Homo sapiens: one gene and its partners. The protein of the gene in region 1 purifies or fractionates together with the protein of each later gene. This does not show direct contact. Each region holds a gene or a part of one and is shown in the gene's direction. Other genes may lie near its edges.

What was found. The genes of interacting proteins can lie anywhere in the genome.
Region 2: the proteins of TPTE2 (region 1) and DIAPH3 purify together in Homo sapiens (affinity purification with mass spectrometry; 3 studies listed by BioGRID and IntAct, with this or other methods). This does not show direct contact.
Region 3: the proteins of TPTE2 (region 1) and STRN3 purify together in Homo sapiens (affinity purification with mass spectrometry; 2 studies listed by BioGRID and IntAct, with this or other methods). This does not show direct contact.
Region 4: the proteins of TPTE2 (region 1) and HERC1 purify together in Homo sapiens (affinity purification with mass spectrometry; 2 studies listed by BioGRID and IntAct, with this or other methods). This does not show direct contact.

The regions. Positions count from the first base shown.
Region 1 is NC_000013.11:19,558,733-19,562,848, reverse strand, and holds the start of TPTE2 (phosphatidylinositol 3,4,5-trisphosphate 3-phosphatase TPTE2), read left to right. Parts: upstream 1-1,316; 5' UTR 1,317-1,415; exon of another isoform or gene 1,416-1,510; intron 1,511-3,719; 5' UTR 3,720-3,821; intron 3,822-4,116. UniProt on the Homo sapiens protein: Acts as a lipid phosphatase, removing the phosphate in the D3 position of the inositol ring from phosphatidylinositol 3,4,5-trisphosphate.
Region 2 is NC_000013.11:59,665,083-59,668,005, reverse strand, and holds the end of DIAPH3 (protein diaphanous homolog 3), read left to right. Parts: intron 1-1,159; coding exon 1,160-1,422; 3' UTR 1,423-2,423; downstream 2,424-2,923. UniProt on the Homo sapiens protein: Actin nucleation and elongation factor required for the assembly of F-actin structures, such as actin cables and stress fibers. Required for cytokinesis, stress fiber formation and transcriptional activation of the serum response factor.
Region 3 is NC_000014.9:30,914,880-30,918,379, reverse strand, and holds part of STRN3 (striatin-3), read left to right. Parts: intron 1-3,500. UniProt on the Homo sapiens protein: Calmodulin-binding scaffolding protein which is the center of the striatin-interacting phosphatase and kinase (STRIPAK) complexes.
Region 4 is NC_000015.10:63,655,949-63,659,448, reverse strand, and holds part of HERC1 (probable E3 ubiquitin-protein ligase HERC1), read left to right. Parts: intron 1-715; coding exon of another isoform or gene 716-730; coding exon 731-905; intron 906-3,090; coding exon 3,091-3,361; intron 3,362-3,493; coding exon 3,494-3,500. UniProt on the Homo sapiens protein: Involved in membrane trafficking via some guanine nucleotide exchange factor (GEF) activity and its ability to bind clathrin. Acts as a GEF for Arf and Rab, by exchanging bound GDP for free GTP.

The DNA.
Region 1 (4,116 bases):
GCTAGTTTTTTTGTATTTTTAGTAGAGACAGGGTTTCAGCATCTTGGCCAGGCTGGCCTTGAACTCCTGACCTCGTGATCCACCTGCCTCGGCCTCCCAAAGTGCTGGGATTACAGGCGTGAGCCACCACACCCAGCCTAATTTTTGTATTTTTAATAGAGAGCTAATAATTGTATATTTAATAGAGACAGGGTTTCACCATGTTGGCCAGGCTGGTCTTGAACTCCTGACCTCAGGTGATCCTCCTGCCCTGGCCTCCCAAAGTGCTGGGACTACACTGGTGAGCCACTGTGCCCAGTCTACACACCAATTCTTGTTAGCCCAACAGCTGTGCTGTTCTATCTACCCCTCATTTCATGCTCAAGGAGTCATACCTAGAATAGTTACACACAAGAGGGAAACTGGCAGCCAAACACTGGACAGTATGTGTACAAAGTCACCTCCCTACTCCTTTTATTTTACATGAGTGCTGATGCGTTTTGGCAGATGAGCTTTCAGCTGAGGCCTGATGGAAGTTGAGATAACCTGCAAAGACATAACAATATTTATAGTTACATATCTTAGTTTTTTGTTTTGTTTTGTTTTCTTTTTTCTTTTCTTTTCTTTTTTTTTTTTTTTTTGAGACGGAGTCTTGCTCTGTTGCCCAGGCTGGAGTGCAGTGGCGGGATCTTGGCTCACTGCAAGCTCTGCCTTCCGGGTTCATGCCATTCTCCTGCCTCAGCATCCGAGTAGCTGGGACTACAGGCGCCCGCCACCACGCCCAGCTAATTTTTGTTTTTTTGTATTTTTAGTAGAGACGGGGTTTCACCGTGTTAGCCAGGATGGTCTCGATCTCATGACCTCGTGATCCGCCCACCTTGGCCTGCTGGGATTACCGGCGTGAGCCACCGCTTCCGGCCACTTAGTTCTTGAAATTGTGTGATGAGGCAGCAGGGAGGAGGGCAGGGCGGGCTCCAGGCGGGGGCCGGCTCTGGGGCCAGTCTGGGCCACGGTCGGGGCCCAGTCGAGGTCCGGACTGGTCAGGGTTCAGGCGGGATCTGGCGTCCGAGTTCTGGTGGGCCGGCCTGGGGCAAGATCTGGCTCTGGCTGCGGGTCCTGGCCCGGGTCAGGGTTGGGCCTCCGATCCAGCCCGCCCCGGGGCAGGGTTCAATCCCTCGCTTGCCGAAGTCCCTGGGGCTGGCCGGGGTGGAAGACGGGGAAGTCTCTATGTCGGGAAAGGGGCTCTGAAGACCACGTGGGGGCGCTCGAAGGGGCCTGGGGCCACCCTCCTCTCTGGGTCAAAGGTCATCGCAACGGCCGGGAAGAACTTCCTCTTCCTTGGCTCTCCCCACTTACTTCCTGATAACCTGGTAGCGGTCTCCCGCGGGCGTCGGGGCTTGCGGGGAGGCGTAGCAACTTTAGGCAACTTCCCAAAGGTGTGCTTAGGTTGGGGGGCGGGGCGCGGCGCCCCGGGAGGTGGCGGCGTCTGCGACAGCGGGAATATTAGAGTGGACCTGCAGGCCGGTCGCGAGGAGGTGGAGCGGCCCCCGCCGTGTGCCTGGGATCGGCATGCTGGGGCAGGAGGGCAGCCGCGTGTCAGGTGACCAGCGCCATGTCCAGCCAGGTGGTGGGCAGTGAGCCACTACATCATGGCAGAGCCGGCCAGGCCTGACAGTCCAAAGGGCTCCTCGGAGACAGAGACCCGAGCCTCCTGTGGCCCTGGCCCCTGGTCCAGCTCCCACCCACTGCCTCCCAGGCCACAAGGAAGAGGAGGATGGGGAGGGGGCTGGGCCTGGCGAGCAGGGCGGTGGGAAGCTGGTGCTCAGCTCCCTGTCCAAGCGCCTCTGCCTGGTCTGTGGGGACGTGGCCTCCGGCTACCACTGCGGTGTGTCATCCTGTGAGGACTGCAAAGCCTTCTTCAAGAGGACCATCCAGGGGAGTATGGAGTACAGCTGTCTGGCCTCCAACGAGTGTGAGATCACCAAGCGGAGACGCAAGGCCTGTCAGGCCTGCCGCTTCACCAAGAGCCTGCGGGAGCGCGCCTGGACCGCGTCCGGGGTGGGCGGGAGTACAAGCGGTGCCAGAGGTGGACCCGCTGCCCTTCCCGGGCGCCTTCCCTGCTGGGCCCCTGGCAGTCGCTGGAGGCCCCCAGACGACAGGCCCAGTGAATGCACTGGTGTCTCATCTAATGGTGGTTGAGCCTGAGAAGCTCTATGCCTTGCCCGACCCTGCTGGCCCTGATGGGCACCTTCCAGCCGTGGCTACCCTCTGTGACCTCTTTGACCGAGAGATCGTGGTCACCATCAGCTGGGCCAAGAGCATCCCAGGCTTCTCATCGCTGTCGCTGTCTGACCAGATGTCAGTACTGCAGAGAGTATGAATGGAGGTGCTGGTGCCGGGTGTGGCCCAGCGCTCACTGCCACTGCAGGATGAGTTGGCCTTCGCTGAGGACTTAGTCCTGGATGAAGAGGGGGCACGGGCAGCTGGCCTGGGGGAACTGGGGGCTGCCCTGCTGCAACTGGTGCGGCGGCTGCAGTCCCTGCGGCTGGAGCGAGGGGAGTACGTTCTACTGAAGGCCCTGGCCCTTGCCAATTCAGACTCTGTGCCCATCGAAGATGCCGAGGCTGTGGAGCAGCTGCCAGAAGCTCCGCACGAGGCCCTGCTGGAGTATGAAGCCGGCCGAGCTGGCACCGGAGGGGGTGCTGAGCGGCGGCGGCCAGGCAGGCTGCTGTTCACGCTACCGCTCCTCCACCAGACAGCGGGCAAAGTGCTGGCCCATTTCTATGGGGTGAAGCTGGAGGGCAAGGTGCCCATGCACAAGCTGTTCTTGGAGATGCTCGAGGCCATGATGGACTGAGGCGAGGGGTGGGACTGGTGGGGGTTCTGGCAGGACCTGCCTAGCATGGGGTCAGCCCCAAGGGCTGGGGCGGAGCTGGGGTCTGGGCAGTGCCACAGCCTGCTGGCAGGGCCAGGGCAATGCCATCAGCCCCTGGGAGCAGGCCCCACTCCCTCCCCTCCCCCCTCCTAGGGGATGTCAGAAGCTGGAAACGTGTGTCCGGGCTCTGGGCACAGTGCTGCCCCTTGCAAGCCATAGCGTGCCCCAAGAGTGTAGGGGGCCTTGCCGAAGCCACAGGGGGCTGCAGGGGATGTGTGGGAGGCAGAAGCCTATCTCAGGGAGGGAAGGGGGTGCAGGCCACAGTCTCCCAGTGGGTGATGCTTTTGCTGCTGCTTAATCCTACCCCCTCTTCAGAGCAGAGTGGGACTTGGAGAGCAAAGGCCCATGCTCCCTTTGCTCCTCCTCTCATCATTTGCATTGGGCATTAGTGCCCGGCCTTGAAGCAATAACTCCAAGCAGGCTCCAGCCCCTGGACCCCTGGGGTGGCCAGGGCTTCCCCATCAGCTCCCACCCAGCCTCCTCGGGGGTAGGAGAGCACTGCCTCTATGCCCTGCAGAACAATAACACTATATTTATTTTTGGGTTTGGCCAGGGAGGCGCAGAGACATGGGGCAAGCCAGGGCCCAGAGCCCTTGGCTGTACAGAGACTCTATTTTAATGTATATTTGCTGCAAAGAGAAACCACTTTTGGTTTTGAATCTTTAATGAGAAAAAATATATATACTATCGAGCTCAAAAAGAAAATTGTGGAATGCATGATTGACAATGTATTTTTTATTTCTATTTTTTCAAGTAATGCCAGTACTGTTACAGCCAGCACTGACTAAAATTTTTATATTTTCAGAGTTGACGCTGGTGAAGACATTCATGATTTAAACACCAGATCCTGAAATGTGTTAAATCTACTTTGAAATGAATCTGCAATCAGTATTTCAAAGCTTTTCTGGTAATTTTAGTGATCTTATTTGACTAGACTTTTTCAGAAGTACTAAATAAGGAATTTTAACAGGTTTTTATTAATGCACAGATAAATAGAAGTACAGTGAGGTCTATAGCCATTTTATTAAAATAGTTTAAAAGTTTGTAAAAAAATGAATCTTTGTAATTACTTAATATGTTAGTTAACCCATCAAGCTTATATTTGCTGGACTTACAACTTATTTTAAATACGTTTATCTTTTTTGACACTATTCAGTGGAATGTGTAAGCTAGCTAATTCTTGTTTTCTGATTTAAAGCACT
Region 2 (2,923 bases), about 40 Mb from region 1:
TGTAAAATCCTCATCCATCACTGGAAGCCTCTGGTCAGAAAATGACAGTGCAGTAAATATCTTCAGCAGCCACCTTTTAATGTACAAGCTGTTTTCAGTTGGAATTTTCAGCACTCACATAAAACACACTGTCATGAGTGACTGCTTGTGCTCCAAAGTCATTACTATTGGGACAATGGAACATCTCTCAGAGAATAACCAAAAAACTTTAAATGTCATGTCAGGTTTGTTGAAGCCATTTTCAAGCCCCATTCAAGGTTACATGAATATTGAGGGTGTCTGTTTTTTAAAAGTCATCATTACCATCACTTACCAATAAAAGAATGTATGTGTGTATGTATATATGTACATGCATGTATGTATAGATGTGTATATACTTGACAATTACATATAACATTCTGGTTTGCTAGGAAGTTTTAATTATTTGCTTGCCAAGTTCATTGTTTCTTTAAAGGAAAATAATCGACTTTTTAAATTCTTATTAGAAACTTTCCTTCTTGATTTCATTCAAAAAGGAAATTAATCTCATTATTATTCAAGCTAATGTTTAATCTTGTGTCACAGAGTGTGGAAATTATTTATTTATCCAACAAATATTTATTGAGGACCTACTTTGCACCAGGGCCATTTTAGGCCCTGAAGTTACAGCAGTATTTAAAATAATGTCCCTACTGTCTTGGAGCACACATTCTAGTAAGACAGACAATGGACAAGTGAGCAAATATATTGTGTGTCCAGCCATCATGTGCCCTGTGAAGGAAAACATGACGGGGAAGGATAGAGCAGTGCAAAGGGCAAATGCTATTTTAGATGGGTGGCTAGGGAAGGCCTCTCTTTTTAGGTGGTGTTTGAACAGAGACCTGAAAGAAATATGGGACCAGGCCCTGATAATAACCACGTGACAGGCATGTCAGGCATAAAGGAAGAAGGAAATGGGCATTAGTGCTAATGAAACGGTTGGCTGTTATATTTTAGTTTATTCTTAAACCCCTGTGTGATTATTTTAAACCTGTCTTACTCTGTTGACTGTTTCTTTGTTTAGTCTATCTAAGAAGACTACTTATTTATTGAGAATAATTATTTTAAATGTGTTTCATAACGTGCACAGTCCTTGGTTATCATGGTGATAAGTTTTATGTTTCTTTTTTCCTTACTGTAGAAAATCAGAAAGTGCAGTTGACAGAAGGGTCACGTTCACACTACAATATCAATTGCAACTCAACAAGGACTCCAGTCGCCAAGGAGCTTAATTATAATCTAGACACTCATACGTCTACTGGGAGGATCAAGGCAGCTGAGAAGAAGGAAGCGTGTAATGTAGAAAGCAACAGAAAAAAGGAAACGGAACTTCTTGGCTCTTTTTCTAAAAATGAATCAGTTCCCGAAGTTGAAGCCCTGCTGGCAAGATTACGAGCTTTATAAGTTAAACTGGTTTTTAAAAAAAATGATTAAGCCAAATATAAAGCCATGCTCTAAACTATAACACTTGAAAAAATTGCTTTTATGTAAGTGACTTTATATAGTTTTAAATTATGATATATATTAGAAAAATAAAGCTAAATATATGATTGCAATGCTTTTTCTATGTACTGGAGGTTTTGGTTTATTCAAGATTGTACCGGGCTTTAATCCTTTTTTTTTTTTTTTTGTCTCCTGGTATTCCTCAGTTCTTTATTTGGTGGTTAAATTATACATATTGCTTTAGAGAGCAGGTAGGTGGCCATGTGTTCAGCAGTGTGTCCTTAAGAAAATACCATCTTTCTAAGCCACTGGAATTTTTACTTTACTATTTTTAACATTAATGGATGTCAGGTCATCAACCTCAAGTCTTTACATATCCATGTATATTCCATATATATTGTTTATATAGGCCCAAGTTTCTCCTTAATTGGGATCTATATACTACCAGCACAACATCAAAAACATGTAATTGAATACATCAGAGCTATATATGTAAGGAAATGACTGGTGACCCCATTATCATCATTGTTGAATTCATGTTAAGTAGACCCTCTAGGGGACCATAAGGCAATTGAGCACATAACGAAAAATGATGCAATAAGAATGTATGCACTCTCTTTGCCAAATGCATGTGCTTTTGTGTAACGTGGATGTAAACAGAATTGCAGTGCTGCCGAAATTCTTGATCTTGGCTAAGAGAGTATTTTTCCCCTTGTAATTATGACTCTGAGATAAAATTGCCATTTTGAAATTTCCAAAGTAACAACTTTTTTTATTTTATGAATAAACTTGGGATTGCAATTTCTCTGATCTGACAATCAATAACTTTAACAAAGATCTAAATAAGTGTTTCAAGGAAAGTTTTCCTAAGCAAATGTAATATTACCTCATTTGGGCATCATTACTCTGTTAATTCTATATCAAAGGAAATAAACTTGCTACTTGCACTAAATGAAAAAAAATGCTTTCTTTTGTCTCTCTTTTTTTGAAAACATTCTGTGGATAAGCTGAGAATAGACTGTGCTATGCAGTCTGTCTAAGCATCTATTTTGCTTTATTACATGTAATAAGTAAGTGACTGTTCTTTTACCTTCAGTTAAAAAGCAGTTATATGGAACTAGTCGGGCAAGGTCTATTGCTTTTTATTTCCTTAAGTTGCCACCTCCTTTCAGCTCTAAGTTAATAAAGTTAATTAATTAGAACTATGAGCCAGGCCCTGTTTATAGACATTGGAGAACAGAGTATTCTCTGTAGCCAGTGTAGGAATAAATGTGAATTTGTATGTATTGCTGAAATGTGCATTTTGCCATCCAGTTGCAATTCCTGTTTTTCTGAAAACAAACCTTAAAAATCAAGAAAGGTGAAGGACATTTACATATTTAAGCTGACGGCACCCCTAACAACAAGGCAGGATTGTTTTGTTTAGGAAAGAATTTAAATGAAAGAACTCTCACTATCAGTT
Region 3 (3,500 bases), on another chromosome or scaffold:
ACACCACCATTCCCCGGCCAATTTTTTGTATTTTTAGTAGAGACAGAATATTACCATGTTGGCCAGGCTGGTCTCGAACTCCTGACCTCAAGTGATCTGCCTACCTTGGCTCCCAAGGCGCTGGGATTACAGGTGTGAGCCACAGTGCCCAATCTGTTACATTAAATATATATTACTTCAAAAAATATATGTAACTGTTACCTAAATTAATCATTTGAGAATAAGGCAGCATCATTATTCTTTAACTTGGTAGCAAGTATACGCTACCTAGTAATGAATTTTATAAAATTTGCCTAAACCAGAAATGTGTAGGAAATGAAAGTACTACTTAAACATTTTTTCCAAAATTGATTTTAGCCGAAGATATATGGGTATACTTGAATCATGTATAACTCTAAGTCTAGATATTTATAAGTATTAAATCTGAATTTTTAACCAAAGATTATTGTGACATATGAGATACAGTAATTTGGCATATGTATTAAGTTTAATTGATGTTATTGCCTTTGCTCTGTAAAGGGGATTTGTTTGATGTCCCAGTCAAAAAATTTTAAATACATCTTGTTCCCTTTTAAGATTTCCCTAGTGGCACAGTTTCCTTACAGTTAAATAATTTTGCATTTTTTCCCTCTCATAATTTACCATTTACTTCACTCACCTTAAAAAAAATCACTAAAGTAACAAAATCATTCAAAACAAAATGAATGAAAAATAAAATAGTGTCTGTTAATTTTTTCAGATCTCATTTCCACTATTGAGATATATTCCTGTTTTACTTTAGAAGTATTTTCTAAAATACACATAGCAACTCCTTTTTTTTTTTTTAATTTTATGCATTTAGTGGTGATTTTGCTTCGTTTTTGGTCTGTTTTGCCAAATATGCATAGTACAACTTGCTAAAATTTTTGTAATTAATGTACATTTAAAGTGCAGGTTTTGCAATTTAAGGCAAAGCCACGTTAGCAATGTGGACCCTTTTAAATGTTTCAAACCAATGACTTAACGGAAAAAGCCAGTCAAGGCACACTCTACACAAAAACCAACTTAGAACTCTCTATGTGTGTTTGTTTATGTGTTATGTGTGTGTTTTAAAGAAAGAATATAGGTCAGTGATCTGTTTCTTGATGCTGGTAGGAGGGCGAGGGGAGAGATTTGATAAGTGTGAACTTCATTACAGTTTTTGAAGTATCGATCTTCCTGGAATTTGTTATTTAAAGAGGTGTGAGTTTGACTTCAAGCTAAGAAGGCAGCTTTGGAGTATACAGTCTCCTTATTTTCAGTGGCAGTCCCCAACTTCCTTCTTTACTTTTGAAGTCCATGTCCTACCTCATTTTATAAAGAACAAATGTCTGTTTTCTAGGAGTGGAACTTCAACATTACAATCTTCTAGACTATTGCTGCTAAAGACTTGAGACCTACCATGTTGCCACTGGTATAAATGGAATCTGTTACCTGGACTAAGTTCTTGGGAAAAAGAGTTCAATATGCGAGCTACAGGTTTCCTTCATCATAAGTGTCCATCAAAAGGAAGATTAGTTACAAAAGTCTGAAAAAGACCTTGTATTTTATAGACCCGTTATACTAGTATTGTTATCTTACTTGATGAAATCTCTTAGGCCTCCTAAATTTCCATCATTAAATTAAAAACTAGGGCAGGCATAGTAGCTCATGCCTGTAATTCCAGCACTTTGGGAGCCCAAGGCAGGAGGATCACTTGAGCCCAGGAATTCAAGACCAGCCTGGGCAACATAGCAAACTCTGTCTCTATTAGAAAAAAAAAGAAGATATTAAAACTACTTTTTTTAGGCCGGGCGCGGTGGCTCACACCTGTAATCCCAGCACTTTGGGAGGCCGAGACTGGTGGATCACGAGGTCAGGAGATCGAGACCATCCTGGCTAACACGGTGAAACCCTGTCTCTACTAAAAATACAAAAAAATTAGCTGGGCGTGGTGGCGGGCGCCTGTAGTCCCAGCTATTCAGGAGGTTGAGGCAGGAGAATGGCGTGAACCTGGGAGGCAGAGCTTGCAGTGAGCCGAGATCGCGCCACTGCACTCCAGCCAGGGCGACAGAGCAAGACTTCAAAAAAAAAAAAAACCAAAAAAACTACTTGTTTAAATAATTACATTTTTCTTTGAATTACTAATGACATTTTTATATTATGGGTAATTATATTACCATTAATAAAATGAATAGGATAGAAATTAATTCCCTCTGCAGGGAAATAAGGGCAAACAGATGAGTAGCTGCTGTGATTACCATATGCCACAGTGATGGGTAATATGGAAAGCAGAGGTAGTAGTGTAAAAGAATTTTTGCACATATATGTGTAAATAGTGATTAAGCAGAATAGCTTGCAATAGGTACATAAATATGTCATAAAATATATGTGTGTATATAGAGAAAAAGGACAGAAATGTGGTCATATGATTAATTAGAAATGAGTATAATACTAATTTTTTGTTAAGTACAATTAAGCCAAAACTCGAGTAAAACTAATGTCCAGACACTTCCCTTCACATGCTCCTAAATTGGTCTGGCTGATCAGAGATAGTCTTGCAAAATCATTTGTTACGTTAAAGTTATTTTATTGGGCTTTTGAGATTTGTGTCAGTGAATGTTTGTATAATTGTGAGTGGGAGGAACTGTGGCATTTTGTTCTGACTTCTCTTAGAAACAAATTCCCTGAGCTTAAAGTAAAAATATTTCTTTGTCTAGAGAAAAATGCTTTGAGTAAATATTATATAATGACTTTTATATAATTATCCTTAAACATAAGTTTAAATTATTGATTTTATAGTTTTTAGCTGCTTCTGGTATTGCCAATAACTGCATACTAATAATTGGTAGGAAAAGATCAAAAGATCAATGCTACAGATTATTCAGATTCAATAAGTGTCATCATTGAAAGATTAAATACTACTTAATATCTCTATATATTTTCTGTCAGGTGCTTTCAGATTCATTTTAGATCAAGTAACTGAATCAGAGCTGCATTTTAGAGCCCTATTTGAGTCAGATTATATAGCTTATTTTGATAGGATAAAATAATAAAATAACAAGATATTCTAAGTACAGTTGAATTTTATTTTGCCATAGTATATATATGAATTGTGTCTTCTCAGAATTATTTCCAGTAGTTTAGTGATGACTGTCAAGTTTCATTACACCTGTTGTGTTTCCTGTAGCATATTTATATCATTTTTCATGGGAATTTTTTTAAAATTGATAATCAGCTTGATTTTTTGTATAATGTGTCCCTTTTAAATTTGCTCATGAATTTTAAGTGTGTTTTGATATATTGAGTTTTATATTATGATTTGAGTATTTCTCCCTTGTTATCTTAATGTTAAAATTTTGCTTTCAAAGCATATTTGAAATGATATTGAAGGTTGTTGCTTAAACTATGACTGTTACAACAAAATATTTAGATAATAGTCATTCAATTATGGCAGAGTTTAATTGGTCAGTAGTATGTATAGAAAGGAAAACGCATTTTAA
Region 4 (3,500 bases), on another chromosome or scaffold:
AGACCCATTTCTATTAAAAAAATGAAGAAAAGTAGCTGGGTGGGTGGTGTGCACCTTTAGTCCCAGCTACTCAGGAGGCTGAGGCAGAAAAATTGTTTAATCCCAGGAGTTTGAGGTTATGGTGAGTGATGATTGAGCCACTGCACTCCAGCCTGGGTGACAGAACCAGACCCTGTCTCAAGAGGAAAAAATAAATGTTTTGATTTTTTTTTGTCTTTCATGATACCGAAGCAATAAAAAGATTTATAGAACTTGTTATTTAAAAAAAAACTTGGTGTTAAGAGAATCCTGTAACCAACTTAAAATTATTGTGCAGTCTTCTTTTTATTTGGGTGAGAGGGTGTGGTAAATTTTTGGTATAGGGAATACAAAATAAAGAATTGGGCAGTATTGGTAATTCAGTCCTTTATAAATTCTCAAAGCACTTATAATCAGTAGATGTGATACATGGGCAAAATGAACAAAACAGAAAATACTTACTGGTAAATTAAGTATAAATACTCCTATGGTAAATACATTGTTAACATAGAAATATCTAAGTTAGAAATATCCAAGTTCAAACTTAGAAATATGTGAGTTTCTCCTAAGAAATTTTCTGTATAACCAAGTTCCAGATGAGCAAAAGACATTGGTTTGTTATGGAACCTCTGTAGAATAGGAAATGTTTTTAGTAGTTCAGATGTATTTTTTTCTTACCTTGTTGAGAACAAAACAGAATTATGTTTTTCAGGTTGCCATGGCTCCGTAGAAAAGAGCTCCTCTGGGAGAATAACGTTAGGAGAGCAGGCAGCTGCCCTAGCAAACCCTCATGACCGTGTGGTGGCTTTAAGGAGAGTGACTGCTGCTGCTCAGGTTCTTCTGGCCAGAACCATGGTCATGAGAGCGCTGTCTCTTCTCTCAGTCAGGTAAGTGTTATTTTATGTCACATGATGCTAAGTTAACTTCTAGTGTACATTAGCTGGAAGTCTGGTGGTGTTTGGGAGGGTGAGATAGAATTTTAGAAGCTTGAATATGTACTGTTGAATGAAAGATGTTAGACGTAGTCATTGTTATTCACTCAATCGGTCATTCAGTTAATACTTGGCTCTTTTTAGGTAGAAAATAATGCCATTATCACAACTGAGTAAACTGCATACATTTTATTTTGTTGCTTGAAATGGGAAACTAAGGCTGTTGATCCCAATGGTGCTGGATCAAAAACTAAAGGTCAAAATGTATTGACCGTCTGTGTAGCTAAGTCAGCCTGCAGATGCCATCATGGGGATCCTTGCCGTGTTGATACTGTGGAGTGTAATGTAAAAAGGGGATGAGAACCAGAAATACCTAAAAGACAGCTGTTTAAGAAGTGATTAAGCAGGAGTATTTAATGGCAAATCAGTGAAGGCAGAAAGATCCTGAAAGAAAAACAAAATTTCCATAAGACTGTGTGCTATTGGCTCAAGGATAGGCAAATAGGATAGTACAGAAGAGAGTTAAGAAACTGACCCATACATATAAATAAACACTTGATTTATGGTTTGATTTATGACAGTGGTTCACACTGTAGAGCAATAGAGAAAGGCTGTTTTTTTCAGTAACTGAAGCAGGGTCTGATGGTTTATCCACATAGAAAAAAAAAGCCTTGGTCCCAACCTCAAACTATATAAAGCAAATAGTTATAAAGTGGCTATTAGATCTAAATATAAAAGAAAAATAAATCAATAAAGTTTATTGAAGGTAACATAGAAGAATTGCTTCTTGGTCTTGGGACAAGCAAAAATTCCTCAAGCAAGTCACAAAAGGAATCTGCCATAAAAGATTGATAAATTGGAATACAATAAAATAGAAAACCTCTGTTTAGCAAAAGTGATTTGAAAAGTAAGAAAGTAAAAAAGCAAGCCATAGAATGGGAGAAGATATTAGTAATGCATCTAACCAACAGAATGTGTAAAGAATTCCTATAAATTAACAAGAAAAAGACAACCCAGAAGAAAGTGGACAAAACACATTAAGAAGTGTTTCACAAAAGAGGATCTCCAAATGGCCAATAAACATGAAAAGATGTTCAACCTCAGTGAGTCTTCAGAGAAATGAAAATTAAAATCCAGTGTGATTGGGAGGCCAAGACGGGAAGAACCCTTGAGCCAGGAGTTTGAGACCAGCCTGGGAAACATAGTGAGACCCTGTCTCAAAAAAAAAAAAAAAAAAACCTAAGACAAAAAACCCACCAATGAGATACCATTGCACACCCACAAGAATGGCAAACATTTAAAACACTAGAGAGAAAAAAGTGACTGAAACAGCTAAAACTCCCATACATTGTTAGTGAGAAAATGAATTGGTATAACCACTTTGGAAAACTGTTCGATAGTATCAACTAAAACTGAACAGGAACATACTCTGTGACCCAGAGATCCACTTCTGGGTATATATCCAACAGAAATACTTAAATATGTGCCCCCTAAAGACCAATCATTCATGGTAGTACTATTCATAATAGCCCCATGTTGGAAACCGCCTGATTGTCATCTGTAGGGATAAATGAACTGTGGCAGATTTCATGTATATGTCAATGAAAACGAACTGCTCAATGCTACAAGATTTGGATGAATCTTACAAACATAATATTGAAGAAGCCAGACACAAAAGAGTACATATATTAATTATTCAATTGATGTAAAGTTCAAAAACAGGCAAAACTAACTTGTAGCTTTAGAAGTCAGGATAGTGGTTACTTCTGAGAGCATCGTGACTGAGAAAAGCCCAAAGCAGGTTTCTGAGGTACTGGCAATGTTCTGTTTCTTGATCTGGAGGGCGGTGACATGGGTTTGTTCAGCTTATGAAAATTTATGCTTTGTGAACATTCCTGTTTTACTTTGTCAGTTCAATTGTACTTCAAGTATATGCCAATACTTATTAAAAGGAGAGAACGTTTAGATGCCAGTTTCCAGCTTGATACCTTTGGCAACTCTTAGGACATGTATGGCTAATGATAGTGCAGCTTACATTTTATTATGGTTGTTGATGCTGTGAATGTTATGTGGGACTGCAAATGGTCCCTTAAGAAATCCATTTTCTTTATCCATCTGAGATGTTTTTCTTTACTGGCAGTGGTTCCAGTTGTAGCCTGGCTGCTGGTCTTGAGTCTCTGGGGCTAACAGATATCCGAACGCTAGTTCGATTAATGTGCTTGGCAGCAGCAGGGAGAGCTGGCCTCTCCACCAGCCCTTCTGCCATGGCTAGCACCTCAGAACGATCACGAGGTGGGCATAGCAAGGCTAACAAGCCTATCTCTTGCCTGGCCTATTTGAGCACAGCAGTGGGATGTCTGGCATCAAATGCTCCTAGTGCTGCCAAACTGCTTGTACAGTTGTGTACACAGGTAAGCTACTTTCAGTACTTTTCCCCGTTACATTGATTATTTCTGACTGATTCTTGAGCCTTTTGAAATGAAATATTTTTGTTCCAAAATTACATGTAAAAATTAAGTCTGTTTTTCCAATTGCTTCTTCAGAACTTGA